Homo sapiens: one gene and its partners. The protein of the gene in region 1 interacts with the protein of each later gene in a pairwise test. Each region holds a gene or a part of one and is shown on either strand. Other genes may lie near its edges.

The links.
Region 2: the proteins of BAG3 (region 1) and NR1H3 interact in binary tests that used the Homo sapiens proteins (3 or more experiments, as listed by UniProt).
Region 3: the proteins of BAG3 (region 1) and KCTD13 interact in binary tests that used the Homo sapiens proteins (3 or more experiments, as listed by UniProt).
Region 4: the proteins of BAG3 (region 1) and TBC1D3G interact in binary tests that used the Homo sapiens proteins (3 or more experiments, as listed by UniProt).

The regions. Positions count from the first base shown.
Region 1 is NC_000010.11:119,667,489-119,672,596, forward strand, and holds part of BAG3 (BAG family molecular chaperone regulator 3), read left to right. Parts: intron 1-2,362; coding exon 2,363-2,689; intron 2,690-4,766; coding exon 4,767-5,108. UniProt on the Homo sapiens protein: Co-chaperone and adapter protein that connects different classes of molecular chaperones including heat shock proteins 70 (HSP70s), e.g. HSPA1A/HSP70 or HSPA8/HSC70, and small heat shock proteins (sHSPs), e.g. HSPB8.
Region 2 is NC_000011.10:47,260,996-47,264,498, forward strand, and holds part of NR1H3 (oxysterols receptor LXR-alpha), read left to right. Parts: intron 1-245; coding exon 246-454; intron 455-551; coding exon 552-731; intron 732-923; coding exon 924-1,023; intron 1,024-3,503. UniProt on the Homo sapiens protein: Nuclear receptor that exhibits a ligand-dependent transcriptional activation activity.
Region 3 is NC_000016.10:29,919,724-29,923,226, reverse strand, and holds part of KCTD13 (BTB/POZ domain-containing adapter for CUL3-mediated RhoA degradation protein 1), read left to right. Parts: coding exon 1-37; coding exon of another isoform or gene 38-91; intron 92-1,265; coding exon of another isoform or gene 1,266-1,373; exon of another isoform or gene 1,374-3,503. UniProt on the Homo sapiens protein: Substrate-specific adapter of a BCR (BTB-CUL3-RBX1) E3 ubiquitin-protein ligase complex required for synaptic transmission.
Region 4 is NC_000017.11:36,326,884-36,330,386, forward strand, and holds part of TBC1D3G (TBC1 domain family member 3G), read left to right. Parts: coding exon of another isoform or gene 1-131; coding exon 132-171; intron 172-653; coding exon 654-734; intron 735-1,177; coding exon 1,178-1,285; intron 1,286-1,614; coding exon 1,615-1,724; intron 1,725-2,972; coding exon 2,973-3,021; intron 3,022-3,503. UniProt on the Homo sapiens protein: Acts as a GTPase activating protein for RAB5. Does not act on RAB4 or RAB11.

The DNA.
Region 1 (5,108 bases):
CAAGCTCACAGAACTGTTAGAAATAGAGGTACGAATCACACTTAGACCCTACCTAGGGCAGCGTCTACCCTGGAAGAGCCTGTGCCTTTCCCCATCCCTCAGGGCCTCCGTGCTTTCCAAGTAATTCTGCTTCTTGTTTGTTTCCTGCCCCCTTAGCCCATCTTCTAAGCCCCTGTTGGCAGGGAGTGCCCCTTGCTGGTTTGGTAACCCCATAGGACTCCTCAGCGGGTGGCAGGATGTTCCCCCAGGTGGTGGATGAGGGTTTGCTCACTGCTGGTCCCTGCTGTGTGGAGTGTGCAGATGGTTGAGGCTTTTGTGCGTGGCTGGGAAGAAACAATGAGCCCCTGGGCAGCCAGCAAAAATGACACTGCAGGACTAATGCAGGCTCCGATTTCGGCTGGAAGGAGGAGGACCTCAGTGAGTGGACAGAATGCCCACAGGCACGTTATGACTCAACACTGAGTAGCAGAGGGTTTCTTCAGCGCCTCTTGCTGGCTCCCTGTCAGGGCCATCTCACGGCAGGAATTCAGCTCTGAATGTGAGGCCTGGACCTGCTCCTGCTCTTGGGTGACCTGAGAGTTAAGCAGGCTAATGTAATGCCGCCGCCCTGAGCACGTGGCTGTTCTAATCTGAGAATGCCTGTCTGCCCATGTCCCCAAGGACACAGTGACACCCATGCCTTTCCTGTGTGCTGGAGGCCCTCCAAGGGCAGGGTCTCAGCAGGAGGGAGGCAGTTGATGGGCCTGAAAGGGCTAAACCAGGGTCAGCCACCTGGTGCCCACGCCTGCACACAAATAGAAACATCACAGAATTAATGGTCTGTTCTCTCAAAGTGCAGAGCAGCCCTCAGTATCTGTCCTTACTTTTGATTGATTCCGCAGCAGTAGAGATTGTCCCCTGCAAGCTCATAGATTGTTAGCCTTTGGCGTTTGTTCGCCGTGCAGACAGCTGCCTTCGTCAGGAAAGATCACTCCCCTTCTTAAGAGTTGCCTTACACAGATATATGCAAATGACACTTATCAGTAGCTCCCCTCCTGGGAAAGGACCCTCGGTGCTCGGGGACTGTTAGGACTTCTGTTGCGCAGCCCAGCTTGCTGAGAGATGGCATTGCCCAGTGAGTGACTGGCCAGCCTTGTTGTCTGAAATAAGATCTTTCCTGTGGTACATCTGGAACTTGGCCTTCTCAAGGGTCCCAAAATAGCCAGGCCACTGAAGGGAGAACTTCAAGAGAGGACATAAGAGAAGGACCCCAACTGCTCCTTGCCCAAGCAGGCTCTGTTGCGTTGAAGAAAAAGTTCTTCAGTGATACTTGTTAAAGCACAGTCAGGAAGATTTATTCGGGGCCATCAAGATAGGCACAGGGACCACGGCAGTGGGGTCGTGCAGTCATGGGTAGAGACTGGGCACAACTTCAAATACAACACGGGCGATTGGGAATTTATAGTCAAGGAGCAGTGTGGATGGAAAATTAGAAGAGGAAACATCAGGGCTAAGGGTGTTTCTGGCTATGCTGACCAAACAGGATTCTTGCCGAAGACAGGCCAGGGTGATTAGACAGCACCTGGAGGCTGTGGAAGCTGATCAGATAGTGAGGCTGGGGAGGGGGTTTCTGGCTAAACTGACTTAGCAGTGTCTTTTGCTAAAACTTGACTTTACAAGGAAGTGCACAGATGGGCCTAGGAGATGCTTCGGAAGCCTAAGATTTGGTCAAGCAGAGAATCTTTGTCAGTTGGCATCGTTAGGCGACACAGTTAACCCTGGGTGCCCCTCTCTCCCTATGCTGCCTCTGCATCCCTGTCCTTCCCCTTCCTGCAAATTGTTCTAACAATACTCCTGAGGAGGCAGCCCTCGCTCCCCAGCCCACTTCTCTGTAAAGATTCCCAAACTGTGTCCTGTGTTTGGGCCCAGTACAAGCTCTATATTGCTGGGAAATGTGAGGGCCTTTTTGGAAACAGAGACGCTTGCTGTAATGTAGAGGTTGGAGCTGACCCCTGCTCCTGGAGCTCATCTTCTGATCCGGGTCTCTGAAAATGCGGGCATGGGCAGCTCTCCTACACTCACCGCTTCCCTCAGTCACCCAGAAAAGAAACCTGTCTTACCAGTTTGGAGAATTGGGACCTTTCCTTTGCTTAACAGATACTTTTGGCTTTCTCCTGATGCCCCTAATTCCTAAACTGTTGGCCAAATAGCAACCTCTATGGGGTGGGGGGTTTGGAGGGTACAGGGGCTGGGAGCTGGCTGACGCTTTGAGGCCCAAGTCACTCGGGAAGATCACAATGCCAAGCGCCACAGTGTTTCCTCTGCCAGGAGGGTTCACTTCCCAGTTTCTAACCAGCCTGTGTTTCTCCACTTTTTATTTCAGGAGACTCCATCCTCTGCCAATGGCCCTTCCCGGGAGGGCTCTAGGCTGCCGCCTGCTAGGGAAGGCCACCCTGTGTACCCCCAGCTCCGACCAGGCTACATTCCCATTCCTGTGCTCCATGAAGGCGCTGAGAACCGGCAGGTGCACCCTTTCCATGTCTATCCCCAGCCTGGGATGCAGCGATTCCGAACTGAGGCGGCAGCAGCGGCTCCTCAGAGGTCCCAGTCACCTCTGCGGGGCATGCCAGAAACCACTCAGCCAGATAAACAGTGTGGACAGGTGGCAGCGGCGGCGGCAGCCCAGCCCCCAGCCTCCCACGGACCTGAGGTAAGGAGAGGCCAGGCTCACCAGCCTGCTGGGGAGCAAGCCGCTGTGCTTCCCAGGCCGGGCCCATCCCCTCAGGACAGTGCCCTGGGCCAGGCACCTGTTCACATGCAGGGCATCTGGGTCTAGCCTGCAGCATCAGAGGTCACCCAGCAAAGACAGGGTGATGGCCCCACATCATCCCCCAGCATCTCATAGGGCTGTTCTTCAGTGGGGCAGGGCAGGAATCATGTGGCTTCTTTTTGTAGCTAAGGAACGGCTCGGAAGGGCACACTGCAGCCTGCCTGCTCCAGATGCACACAGGTGGAGGGAGCAGAGCTGGGACCGGAAGCCTGGCCTGCCTTCTGGCGCCTAATTTCCATGCTCCTTATTCACACTGGGCTTTCTATTCAGAAGCACAGAGATAGCTGTGCATTATTTTGTTCAGTTCAATGCTTATGGATAAATCTTAACCGCTTGTGGAGCTATGTTGACAGGAAAATGAGACCCCATGCCTGCCCTCACCGTGCACCACAGTTTCAAAAGAAATAAGGAGTCAGGAAGGCAGCTGCTTTAAGACAGCATTTTAATCCTGAAGCCAAACATCTCAGGGATATGTCAATGGATTCTGTGCATTAATAGCTAAAAAATAGTTCTTAATCTGGTTCTTAGCTGAGATTTGAGGCATTCCTAGTAGGATTCCTAAGCAGTAAGTCCTCTCATTTTCCTGTCTGCACATCATCCTGTGGTGTGTGCCAGCGTTGTTCCTGGGCACAAACTCCCGTGTCCTATCTGCACCCTGAGTCATGCTTGCCTCTCAGCTCCGTCTGAATCTGTTCAGCTTCACACCTGCTTGAGAGTGAAAGTTACAGTTAATGTGGGATACCTTTTTTCTTTTCTTAGAGAGGTAGTACCTGGCTGAGGCAGGTGGATCACTTGAGGCCAGGAATTCAAGACCAGCCTGGCTAACACGGTGAAACCCCGTCTCTACAAAAAATACAAAAATTAGCCGGGCATGGTGGCACATTCCTGTAATCCCAGCTACTCAGGAGGCTGAGGCAGGAGAATTGCTTAAACCCAGGAGGCAGAGGTTGCAGTGAGCCGAGATCGCACCACTGCACTCCAGCCTAGGTGATAGAGCGAGACTGTCTCAAAAATAAAAAAATAAGTAATGCCTATATTTATAATGGTTTTGCTGCAAGAAATCAAAGTGACACATAAATGCGAGACATCTTCACAAATTTAGGCTAACAAAGCACTTAGAAGAGGAAATGCTCTCAATTTCGAGGTGAATAGAAGGTGGCCCAGCAGGGAAAGGTGCTTGACCTGCCTTGGGCCACACGGGATGCTGGCAGCTCCCAGTTGCTCAGCCGAGTTCTCTGTAGATTGGCAGAGAAAGGGTAGTGGGGACAACACATCCCTTGTATGAGCGCTTCCTGTGTGCTGGCCTGGGGCTGAGGCACATGCCCAGGTGACTGACCTCATCTTCAGAGCAGCCCAGTGAGGGAGGGGCACTCTTCCTATATTTCAAATGAAGCTTAGAAAATGATTGAATTACTAGGAATTTGAACATAGGCCCCTTGATTCCAAAGCCTTCAGTCTTTGTTGTGTGTGTGTGTGTTTTGTTTTGTTTTGTTTTGTTTTGCTTTGTTTGAGGTGGAGTCTCTCTCTGTTGCCCAGACTGGAGTGCAGTGGTGTGATCTCAAATCACTGCAACCTCTGCCTCCTAGGTTCAAGCAATTCCCCTGCCTCAGCCTCCTGAGTAGCTGGCACTACAGGCATGCGCCGCCACACCCAGCTAATTTTTGTATTTTTGGTAGAGATGGGGTTTCACCATGTTGGCCAGGCTGCTCTTGAACTCCTGACCTCAGGTGGTCCACTCACCTAGGCCTCCCAAAGTGCTGGGATTACAGGTGTGAGCCACCGCGCCCAGCCCCAGAGCTCTCAGTCTTAACCGCACATTTTGAAAATTGAAAATTACAGATAGGAGGTCTTACAATATGGATTGCCCTGAGGAGGTGCACAGCAGAAGGCGTGGTCAGGATGCCAAGCCAGGGGAGTCATTTGTGGGGTCATGCCCTCTACCCTGTGTCTCTTGCAGCGGTCCCAGTCTCCAGCTGCCTCTGACTGCTCATCCTCATCCTCCTCGGCCAGCCTGCCTTCCTCCGGCAGGAGCAGCCTGGGCAGTCACCAGCTCCCGCGGGGGTACATCTCCATTCCGGTGATACACGAGCAGAACGTTACCCGGCCAGCAGCCCAGCCCTCCTTCCACCAAGCCCAGAAGACGCACTACCCAGCGCAGCAGGGGGAGTACCAGACCCACCAGCCTGTGTACCACAAGATCCAGGGGGATGACTGGGAGCCCCGGCCCCTGCGGGCGGCATCCCCGTTCAGGTCATCTGTCCAGGGTGCATCGAGCCGGGAGGGCTCACCAGCCAGGAGC
Region 2 (3,503 bases), on another chromosome or scaffold:
AATCACTTGAACACGGGAGGTGGAGGTTGCAGTGTGCCAAGATCATGCCACTGCACTCCAGCCTGAGCAAGTGTGAGACTCTGTTTCAAAAAAAAAAAATCTTCTTGCCTTTACCCAGTGCTGTCTGCTTTTCTGGAGCCCCAAACCACCCCCTTTGCCCCATCCTTCCCTCCTGTCTTTCCCCCACCCCCTTGCCCCATCCTTTCCCCATCTGCTCCCTTCCTCATATTTGGCCCTGTCCTTAGGTGTCCTGTCAGAAGAACAGATCCGCCTGAAGAAACTGAAGCGGCAAGAGGAGGAACAGGCTCATGCCACATCCTTGCCCCCCAGGGCTTCCTCACCCCCCCAAATCCTGCCCCAGCTCAGCCCGGAACAACTGGGCATGATCGAGAAGCTCGTCGCTGCCCAGCAACAGTGTAACCGGCGCTCCTTTTCTGACCGGCTTCGAGTCACGGTACTTGACACACCTGGGGAGAGGCGGCTGCGCCCAGATCACCAGTGGGCTTCTTGATGTCCGACTCAAAGCGCTTTGCCTTTTCCCTCCTGGGTAGCCTTGGCCCATGGCACCAGATCCCCATAGCCGGGAGGCCCGTCAGCAGCGCTTTGCCCACTTCACTGAGCTGGCCATCGTCTCTGTGCAGGAGATAGTTGACTTTGCTAAACAGCTACCCGGCTTCCTGCAGCTCAGCCGGGAGGACCAGATTGCCCTGCTGAAGACCTCTGCGATCGAGGTGGCTGGAGAAGGGCAAGGGATGAAGGGAGAAGCAGAGTGGGATTATCTGTGGGAGGGGCCTCCAGACATCGAGCTGGGAGAGCCAAATCTGCTGGGAAGCAGGGATGAGGAGAATCGGCCTCCCTGGAAGAGGCCATGCTCCAAGACCAGCCCTCCTAGTCCCCGTTTGAGGTTTGCTGCTTGTGTGCAGGTGATGCTTCTGGAGACATCTCGGAGGTACAACCCTGGGAGTGAGAGTATCACCTTCCTCAAGGATTTCAGTTATAACCGGGAAGACTTTGCCAAAGCAGGTGAGAACTGAGATCACACAGGGATTGGGGTTGGGTGGACAGATGCTTCTTTTTTTATTTTTTATTTTTAAAAATTGAGGGCCAGGCGCGGTGGCTCATGCCTGTAATCCCAGCACTTTGGGAGGCCGAGGTGGGCAGATCACCAGGTCAGTAGATCAAGACCATTCTGGCTAACACGGTGAAACCCTGTCTCTACTGAAAATACAAAAAATTAGTCAGGCATGGTGGCACGCGCCTGTAGCCCCAGCTACTTGGGAGATCGAGGCAGGAGAATCACTTGAATCTGGGAGGCAGAGGTTGTAGTGAGCCAAGATCGCACCACTGCACTCCAGCCTGGGCAACAACAACAACAACAACAAAAATTGAGATAGAGTCTTACTATGTTGCCCAGGTTGGTCCCAAACTCCTGGCCTCAAGTGATCCTCCTGCCTCTGACTCCCAAAGTGCTGGGATTACAGGCGTGAGCCACCCACCATGCCCGGCCAAGTACTTTTTTTTTGTTTCATTTTTTTTTTTAGACAGAGTTTGCTCTGTCACCCAAGCAGGAGTGCAGTGGCGTGATCTTGGCTCACTACAACCTCCGCCTCCCGGGTTCAAGCAATTCTCCTGCTTCAGCTTCTCAAGTAGCTGGGATTAGGTGCACCACCATGCCCAGCTAATTTTTGTACTTTTAGTAGAGACAGGGTTTTACCATGTTGACCAGGCTGGTCTTGAACTCCTGACCTTAAGTGATCCATGTGCCTCAGCCTCCCAAAATGCTGGGATTACAGGCATGAGCCACTGAACCTGGCCAGGACTGGTGCTTTTTGTCAGAGGCCCATAGTGACTACAGAGCCACAGGCCCAATGTTTGGGTGGCTGGTAAGGGAAGGCTCCCTTGTTTTTTGAAGATAGAAAATTGGAATGCTGATAGGCTTCTCTCAGCTGCTCCAGATAGACCCCTGTCCTCTGTTGCTTTAGGTCAGTGGTTTTCAAACTGTATTCCAAGGAACCTGAGAGATATATGGAATGGCACCTTGGAGGAGAAACAGGGAGGCACAGGAATGTCCTTCATCTTTACTTTAGCCAAACAAGAAGCTCCATTTAAATCTGCATTATATATTGCACTGCTACATAGTATTTTGCTTGCAGATTTTACAGCTTGAAAAAAAAGTTTGAAACTCAGTGCACTCAACTTTTTAGTAGTCAAAAAGTGAACAAATCTTCCTCACATGTGCTCTTTGGGGATCATGGGGGCTGATTTCCCCTACTTTTTTTTTTTTTTTGAGATAAGTTCTTGCTCTGTCACGCAGGCTGAAGTGCAGTGGCATGAACGTGGCTCACTGCAGCCTCAACCACCTGGGCTCCAGTAATCCTCCTGCCTCAGCCCCCAAGTAGGTGGGACTACAGGCATGCACCACCATGCCAGGCTAATTTTTATATTTTTTTGTAGAGAGTGGGTTTCGCCATGTTGCCCAGGCTGGTCTCAAAATGGTCTCGAACTCCTGAGCTCAAGTGATCCACCCACCTCGGCCTCCCAATGTGCTGGGATTACAGGCATGAGCCACCACACACAGCCTCCCCTACTCTTTTTCTTTTTTTTTCTTTTCTTTTTTTTTTTTTTTGAGATGGATTCTCACTCTGTTGCCAGGCTGGAGTGCAGTGACGCGATCTTGGCTCACTGCAACTTCTGCCTCCCGGATTCAAACGATTCCCCTGCCTCAGCCTCCTGAGTAGCTGGGACTACAGGCGCGCGCCACTACGCTCAGCTAACTTTTGTATTTTTAGTAGAGATGGGGTTTCACTGTTTTGCCCAGGCTGGTCTTGAACTCCTGAGCTCAGGCAATCCGCCCGCCTTGGCCTCCCAAAGTCCTGGGATTACAGCCATGAGCCACTTGTCCAGGCCCCTCCCCTACTCTTTTTCAATTGCACTTTCTGACGAACCAGAACCATGGCATGGCAAACATGCCCAGAGAGGATGTACAATAAGAGCGAATGCTTCCATCTCCATCCTATATCTGAAGTATTTTCTCCAAAAATTAGTTCATTCTGCGGCTCTCTATCTGATGCTCGCTTGGGAGCTACGCAGAAGGGGTTTCTTCATATTCAACTATTGATAATGTTTGTATCATGAGAACTGGCCTGGGAAAGGACGGGAGGCTGAGGGAGTTTTGGAGGGACTGGAATTGAGCTTCAGCAGGAAACCAAGTAGCTTAACGACTGGATGAGTGGGGCTGTAAAATATGGCTGATGCCCTGACTCCACTCTCAGGGCTGGTAGATCTGTGGCCAGGCCAGTCATCAAGCCTTCCTTGGTTTCTGATAACTCAGGCCAGCTCACGTGCCTCTTGCTCTCCCAACGCAGTCCACCCAGTGAGCTTTCTAGGAAGGCCACTCTTCGCTGTAGGGCATAACAGGGCTATGTTGGCACCTTTTGCCTTCTATAGTAACCGGTGTGCTGCCTGGATGTATTGACACCTAATGGGGTGATTTAATGACTTTA
Region 3 (3,503 bases), on another chromosome or scaffold:
GCAGGGCCTGATTGAGGACTGCCAGCTGGCGCTGCAGGTGAGGGCCTTCGGAGTCCCCATGCCTATGTTCCTGGGAGAGCTGCCCAAGCAGGTATTAGAGCAGAAAAAAGGAGATATGGGGTATGGCTTGGAGAGCCTGGCTTTGGCTGGCCATAACCCCAGAGAATTTGAGGTGCCATCTTCTGCATCCCTGCCGCCTCAGGCAGCACCCCCACCCCAGCCTCATGCCAGGACCTTTGCAATGGTTAAATAGCTGCTCTCTACTTCCCACTGTTCCTATGCAGCCAGTCCAGCTGTTACACTCGCACCTGAGTAATTATCTTTCAGCACAACCCCGATCTATTCTCTCTCTTGCTTAGAAATCCTAAATAGCTCCCTCATGTCACTAGGGAAAAACATCTAAATTTAAATTGAAATATAATAACCTCTGCGATCTGGCCCTATCCTGGGAGGCAGCATTCTCCCATGGCTTCCGCCCCCCAGGAGCTTTCTAATTCTTTTTTTTTTTTAAACAGTGAAATTCTTTATTCAAATGAAATCTCACAGAAGCAGGGCCACTCCCAGTAAAACAGGGTTGGGGATTCTAGAGACCCCACCTGCTAGGCTCCACTTTTGTGGACCCCTTAGGGTTCTGAGGAGCAGAGCTTGGAAAGTGAAGCCAGGACATAAGGGTTCTGTGTCACCTCTGTCACAGCTGACTCAGTGACCTTCAGTGAGTCCATTCCTACCTCTGGGATTCTGTCCTCGGGTTCCGAAAGACAGGGAAGGGAGAAAAATAAGTACAAAGTAGTGAGTTTTACATAAAGCCTGTTATTCTGTTCTATTTTTACAATGTTAAAAATGTCCTTTCTTTTATGTTACAATAGTAAGAGAAGATTATAAAAGTTTCTTTTTGAATGCCCTTTATAGATTAAAAGGTTGCCTCCCTGAACAACTTTTGTCTCAGGGAATACTTACTGGTTCTTGAAGCCCAAAGGTGTAGAACTCCTTTGGACAATATCCATGTTTTTCAAACTTTTTGATTGCCTGCCATAGGGAAAAAATGCATTTTAGTACTCATTATATATAACTGAAATAACAGTTCTATAAAAAGATACTTTTAGTGAAATGTACTCTGATAATCTTTCTTTTTAATGCTGTTTGGGACCCATTACTTATTTCATGACCCATTAATAAATTACCACTTGCATTTGAGAAACATTCATTGTACTAGATCTTGGAAGTGCATTCCTGCTCTGTAGCATTTTTGTTTTGTTTTGAGACAGAGTCTCTCTGTCGCCCAGGCTGGAGTGCAATGGCGTGATCTTGGCTCACCGCAACCTCTGCCTCCCAGGTTCAAGCAATTCTCCTGCCTCAGCCTCCCAAGTAGCTAGAATTACAGGCGCCTGCTACCACGCTTTGCTACTTTTTTGTATTTTTAGTAGAGACGGGGTTTCACCATGTTTGTTAGGCTGGTGTCGAACTCCTGACCTCACGTGATCCATCCGCCTTGGCCCCCCAAAGTGCTGGGATTACAGGCGTGAGCCACCGGCCTGTAGTTTTAAATTTACTAATGTTAAAACTAAAGTTTTAAAACCCGGCCTGTAGTTTTAAATTTACTAATGTCATCATGTACCCACTGTGTGTCAGGAGCAATTCTGCTATCTGCTTGTGTATACATCTTGTATCCTTGTTTGACGTAAAAAGAAACGCGAGGGAGCTTGGAAGACGTGTCCAAGGTGAAAGAGCTGGGAAGCAGCAGAGCTCAGATTTGACCCCAGGCTACCTGACTATCTGACCTTCAGCCTCCCAAGAGCTGTACTTTTCTATACTCCTGCTCTCTCCTTTCCAGGTTCCCTCTGCACCTCACGCAGCTCAGCACACTCCTCAGTGTGTGGCACTTCATCAATATTGGTCTATGCAAACCTTTTGTCTTTTAGTTTTATTTCTTTCCCTTCATTCCCAGTCCCCTGCCTACTTTCCTTTTTCCCAGGGGCACCCATCCAATTTTAATGTTTTGATACATATGCTCGAAAAGCTAAAGCATTGTTCTGCATATGTGTGCATTTTAAATGTCCATAAATGGCATTGAAGCTGTGAATCAGTTTCTGTTGCATTGTGTTTTTTTAATTCAGCACTTTTTTTCAAGATCTATTCATGCTGCTCCAAGTACATCTAGTTCTTTGCTTCTAACAGCTGCAGAGAAATCTGCGGTGTTCATTCACCATATTTTGTTCATACATTCCCCTGAGGTTGGAGACCTAGATTGCCTTCCAGTTCCTGCCCCTACAAACCGTGTCACCATGAGCATCCTGGTACATGCTCCCTTCTGATTCTGTGCCAGTCTCCTGTCATTGTAGCTGGGAGTAGAATTGCTGGATAACAGGACACCTGCAAACGGCGTTTTAGTAAATATCATCTAATTGCTCTCCCGAATGGTTATAATACTTTATCCTCATAATGAGCAGTGCATAAGAGATTACATTTCTGCATGTCCTCATCAAGACATGGCATCATCCAGCTTTCTAATTTTGCCAATCCAATGAGTGTAGCGTGATCTCATTTTCATTTGCATGCCTCTGATTACTAATGAGGTTCAGCATCTTTTCATATACTCACTAGTGTTTTTTTGTTTCCCTTCCTGTGAATTGCTTATTCATGTTCTTTACCAGATTTTCTGCTTTTTTCTTTTTCATGTTGCTTAGCAGGAGATCCTTGCATATTTTAGTTTAGTTCCTAGGGATAATTAAGCCCTACTGCATATGGGTATGTCTTATACATTCCCTAGGGCATGGATTATATACATAACAAATTAACCTCTAAGCCTGTAGCATGGGACTATTTACCTACTGTTCTCAGCAAAGTTCAGAAAACACTCAAATTATTTGCTGTTTTTTTGTTTTTGTTTTTGTTTTTCTTTTTTTGAGGTGGAGTCTTGCTCTGTCGCCCAGGGTGGAGTGCAGTGGCGCGATCTTACCTCACTGCAACCTCCCTCTCTGGGGTTCAAGTGATTCTCCTGCCTCAGCTTTCCGGGTAGCTGGGACTACATGTGTGCACTACAATGCCTGGCTAATTTTATCATATTTTTGGTAGAGATGGAGTTTCGCCATGTTGGCCAGGCTGGTCTCGAACTCCTGACCTCAAGTGATCCACCTGCCTTGGCCTCCCAAAGTGCTGGGATTCAGGCGTGAGCCACCGTGCCTGGCCATATTTGCTGGTTTTTGAGATTCAGATGAGGAACTTCAGTTGAAAAAGTCTGTTCTAGATAAAAATTTCTAGTCAATGTAGATATCGCCAATATTTTTTCTTAGAATGTCACCCACTTGTGGCATCTAGCATTGAATGGAAATCCTTGATTTTTTAAAATTACAAATAACCATTGATTATTTTAAAGCAGTATTTATTAATTGTAGAAATTTCAGAAACACAAATAATCTAAAAAATAAAAGCACCAAATATTCTTCCAGGTCGTTTCCTGTGTGAGAGTATGTGTGTGTGTGTGTGTTTGCTTGCCAAAATACAAT
Region 4 (3,503 bases), on another chromosome or scaffold:
CCTGTGCCTTCTCCTGGGCTGAGCCCTGAGCTGGAAAGGGACAGAGCCAGTCCTTTCTGGGGGTCGGCACCCAGGCTGGGGCCGCTCCAGGCCCCGTGCAGTTCCTCAGCTCTGCCTGGGTTGCCTTACAGTGAGACGGAGCTGCCTCCTCTGACTGCGCGGGAGGCGAAGGTAAGAGCCTGATGCGTGGAGGGGCTGGTCCAGGGACGTAGGGACTGGGCGGGTGGTCAGTGAGGCAGAGGAAGCAGCTGGCCTGAGCGGTGGCGGGTGAGGGCAACACGCTGTCACTGGGAGGGGCAGCAGTCCCTGCTGGACCTGACCCCAGGTTGCTGTTCACTTTGGCAGTTTGATAAAATTCCAAAAGGAGAACCACAGTCCTGGCTTGGGGGTGGCTGCGCGCTTGTGTCAGGACCCCACCTAGAGGCTGGGACCTAAGACTGGTGTGTCTGTGGCCTGAGGATGGTACATCCCGGGGTCCCAAAGCCAGCCCACTGGTGCTCATTTGCTCAAAGGCTCTCAGCCCTTGAGGTCTGCCCTTCCCTGGCTCCTTCCAGCTGGCTCCCACCAGGGCTCCAGAGCCCAAGACCCAGCATCTGCGGGCGGCTCTGGGAAGCCTGGCAGCTCCGCTAACTCCAACATGCCTCATTTGACAGCAAATTCGGCGGGAGATCAGCCGAAAGAGCAAGTGGGTGGATATGCTGGGAGACTGGGAGAAATACAAAAGCAGCAGAAAGGTAACGTGTGGAGGGAGGAAGCACTCTCTGCAGAGACAGGGGACAGGCACCCATGGCTGTGGCCTGGCACCATCAGCCTCTCAGAGGGTGGGCGGCACACTGTCCTCGCCCAGAGGACTGCAGGCCTGGTCGCCAGATTTCCTGCCTATTCGTGCAAGCGTCACCTTGCAGGGAGGGAATCTGAATCTAGGGCTGGGACTACCCGGAGCTCAAGGCTAGGGATGCCCTGGGGACCTGAAGGAAGGAAAAGGTTCAGATCAGAGTTTCGACTCTGAGTGTCCATCCACTCTTTCAGTCCTGGGAAGGGAGACCCTGTCCCAGCTTGATCTCACCTCTACTGAGGAATCATGGGGCCAAAACCGACAATTTCCAGAATCCCCGGGCTCTGGTCCTCACTGGGGTCACCCCGTGGCCTGTGACACCAGATCGTTTTCTGCCCACAGCTCATAGATCGAGCGTACAAGGGAATGCCCATGAACATCCGGGGCCCGATGTGGTCAGTCCTCCTGAACATTGAGGAAATGAAGTTGAAAAACCCCGGAAGATACCAGGTACGCTCAGCCAGAGCACAACAAACAGGACAGGCCGTGTCGGGGCCCAGGTCTCCAGCTGGAGGGAACGTCAAGACCACCCTGGGGAGCTGGGGGTGAAGGTCAGATGAACACCCTGGGCACAGATGGTGACACAGTCACCACAGACAAACTCAGCTCTGGTGACCCTCCCTGGCTTCAGTAACAAGCCAAAATGCAGCTTTCTGCAGAAGGAAACCTTCCTTCTGTCCTTCCTTCCCGAAGTGCTGACTGTGGGCTGACTGCCACTGGGGGCAGGGAGTCTTCCATCTGTTCTGAGACTGCTTCCTCCTCTTGGCCCTGCCCTACAGATCATGAAGGAGAAGGGCAAGAGGTCATCTGAGCACATCCAGCGCATCGACCGGGACATAAGCGGGACATTAAGGAAGCATATGTTCTTCAGGGATCGATACGGAACCAAGTAAGCCTACGGGAGCCACAGGGTCCCAGCAGAGATGGGGTGAATGAGAGGGATGGGGGCTTCCCCGGAGCAGAAGCCAGGGTCACCCAGGAGGGATGACACAGCTGCCAAGAGCTCTCCCGGCCCAGGGAGCAGCCGGCACCATGAACCGAGCACCTCCCTGGTTCCAAGCCCTGGGCCAGACTGGAACATGTGGGGCCAGAACCCAGGAGGATCCTGAGGAGATGGAAGGCAGCAAACAAAATCATGCACAATGGTGAAGGGTGCTCTCCCTGACCCATGGGGACCCATGGTAGGACCCACGGGAGGGTGGCAGGATAGAGGGCCCATGAGCCCCCCCCAGGCAACAGTGACAGCACCAAATGCTGGGAGAATTAGGGGTCCTGGAAACTCTCATCCAGGTCCGCTGGGAACATGACATGGCACAGCCACGTTGGCAGCCAGTTGGGCAGTGGCTCACAAAGCTCGATGGACTTGAACCACACATCCCCAAAGTGTCACAGATATTGAACCCACTGATTTGCAAACTGACATCCACATGAAACCAGCATGCCAGGTTCACTGCTTGACTCCTCGTCACTCACACACGGAGCCTTCGGGGACGGCCTTCAACACGGGGATGGGGAGAGCAAGGCTGGTCCTCCCTTCAAACGGAAGACCCAGTGAGAAAAGGGAACGAGCCGGTGATGCCCGCACGAACGTGGGTGGATCCTAGATGCATTTTGCTGAGGGACAGAAGCCAGACCCAATAAGCTACCACAGTAGGATTCCCATTCCTAGGCCATTCTGGAAAAGGCCAAACCACAGGGACTGAGAAGCAGTCTGGGTGGCCAGGGGCTGACGGATCGGGGAGAGGCTGGTTGCATAGGGGCCACCCTGGAGACTTGGAGGATGAAGGAGTCGCCCCAGGAGGGGCTGGAGCGGTGGCCGGGAGACTCTGCACATCGGTTTGGAACCGTGGAGGAACTGTACACCCACAGACTGAACTGGCGTGTGTGCAAACTGAAAAAAAAAATCATTCAGAGTGAAAAGGATCAGGCAAGTCACTGTACAACTGGGCTATTTGCATGTCACAGATGTGGATTTTACTGAAACATTTCTTCAAGAGTCTCAGGCCCTGAAGAGCTCACTGCTTATCTGGTGAAACATCTGAACCTGAAATGGGATTTGCTGTTAGGCTTTGTAGACAAAGTGAAATTAACAACATCTGCACAAAACAAACCAAAGCCCCCTTTCTCTGTTTCCTAGGCAGCGGGAACTACTCCACATCCTCCTGGCATATGAGGAGTATAACCCGGTGAGTATTCCCGGCAGTGAGGTTCCCGGGCCATATTTCCATATTGACAGGAGTGGGTGTCTGGTGGGGGTGTCGTTGCTTCTTTTAAAGTTAGTATTTGTGACCCACCAGGATATAGGAGGTAGGATGTCAGCTCACCGCTGGCATAAACCTCCAAGGAAGGGGGTGGTCTCAAGGGGTCAAGCTGAGACACAAAGGAGTCAGGGCCCGGACTCCTGGTGTCACCTGGGCCTGACCACCACTTCTCAGAACAAGAAATGACGCCCTCCTCCTGGGGCTGCCCCAAAGCCCAGGAGCTTGGCAGCATCGCACACAGGATGGTGCTATCAGCAGACATTTTGGACAAGGTGCTGAAGTGCCTGATGGACTTGGCTCTTGTCATGAAATGAATGTGCATCCTGAGGAAGCCTCTTTTTCAGAGGAAGCCTCTCCTTCAGAGGAAGCCTCTCCAGTCACCTCTGCCCTCTCCAATGACATGAGTC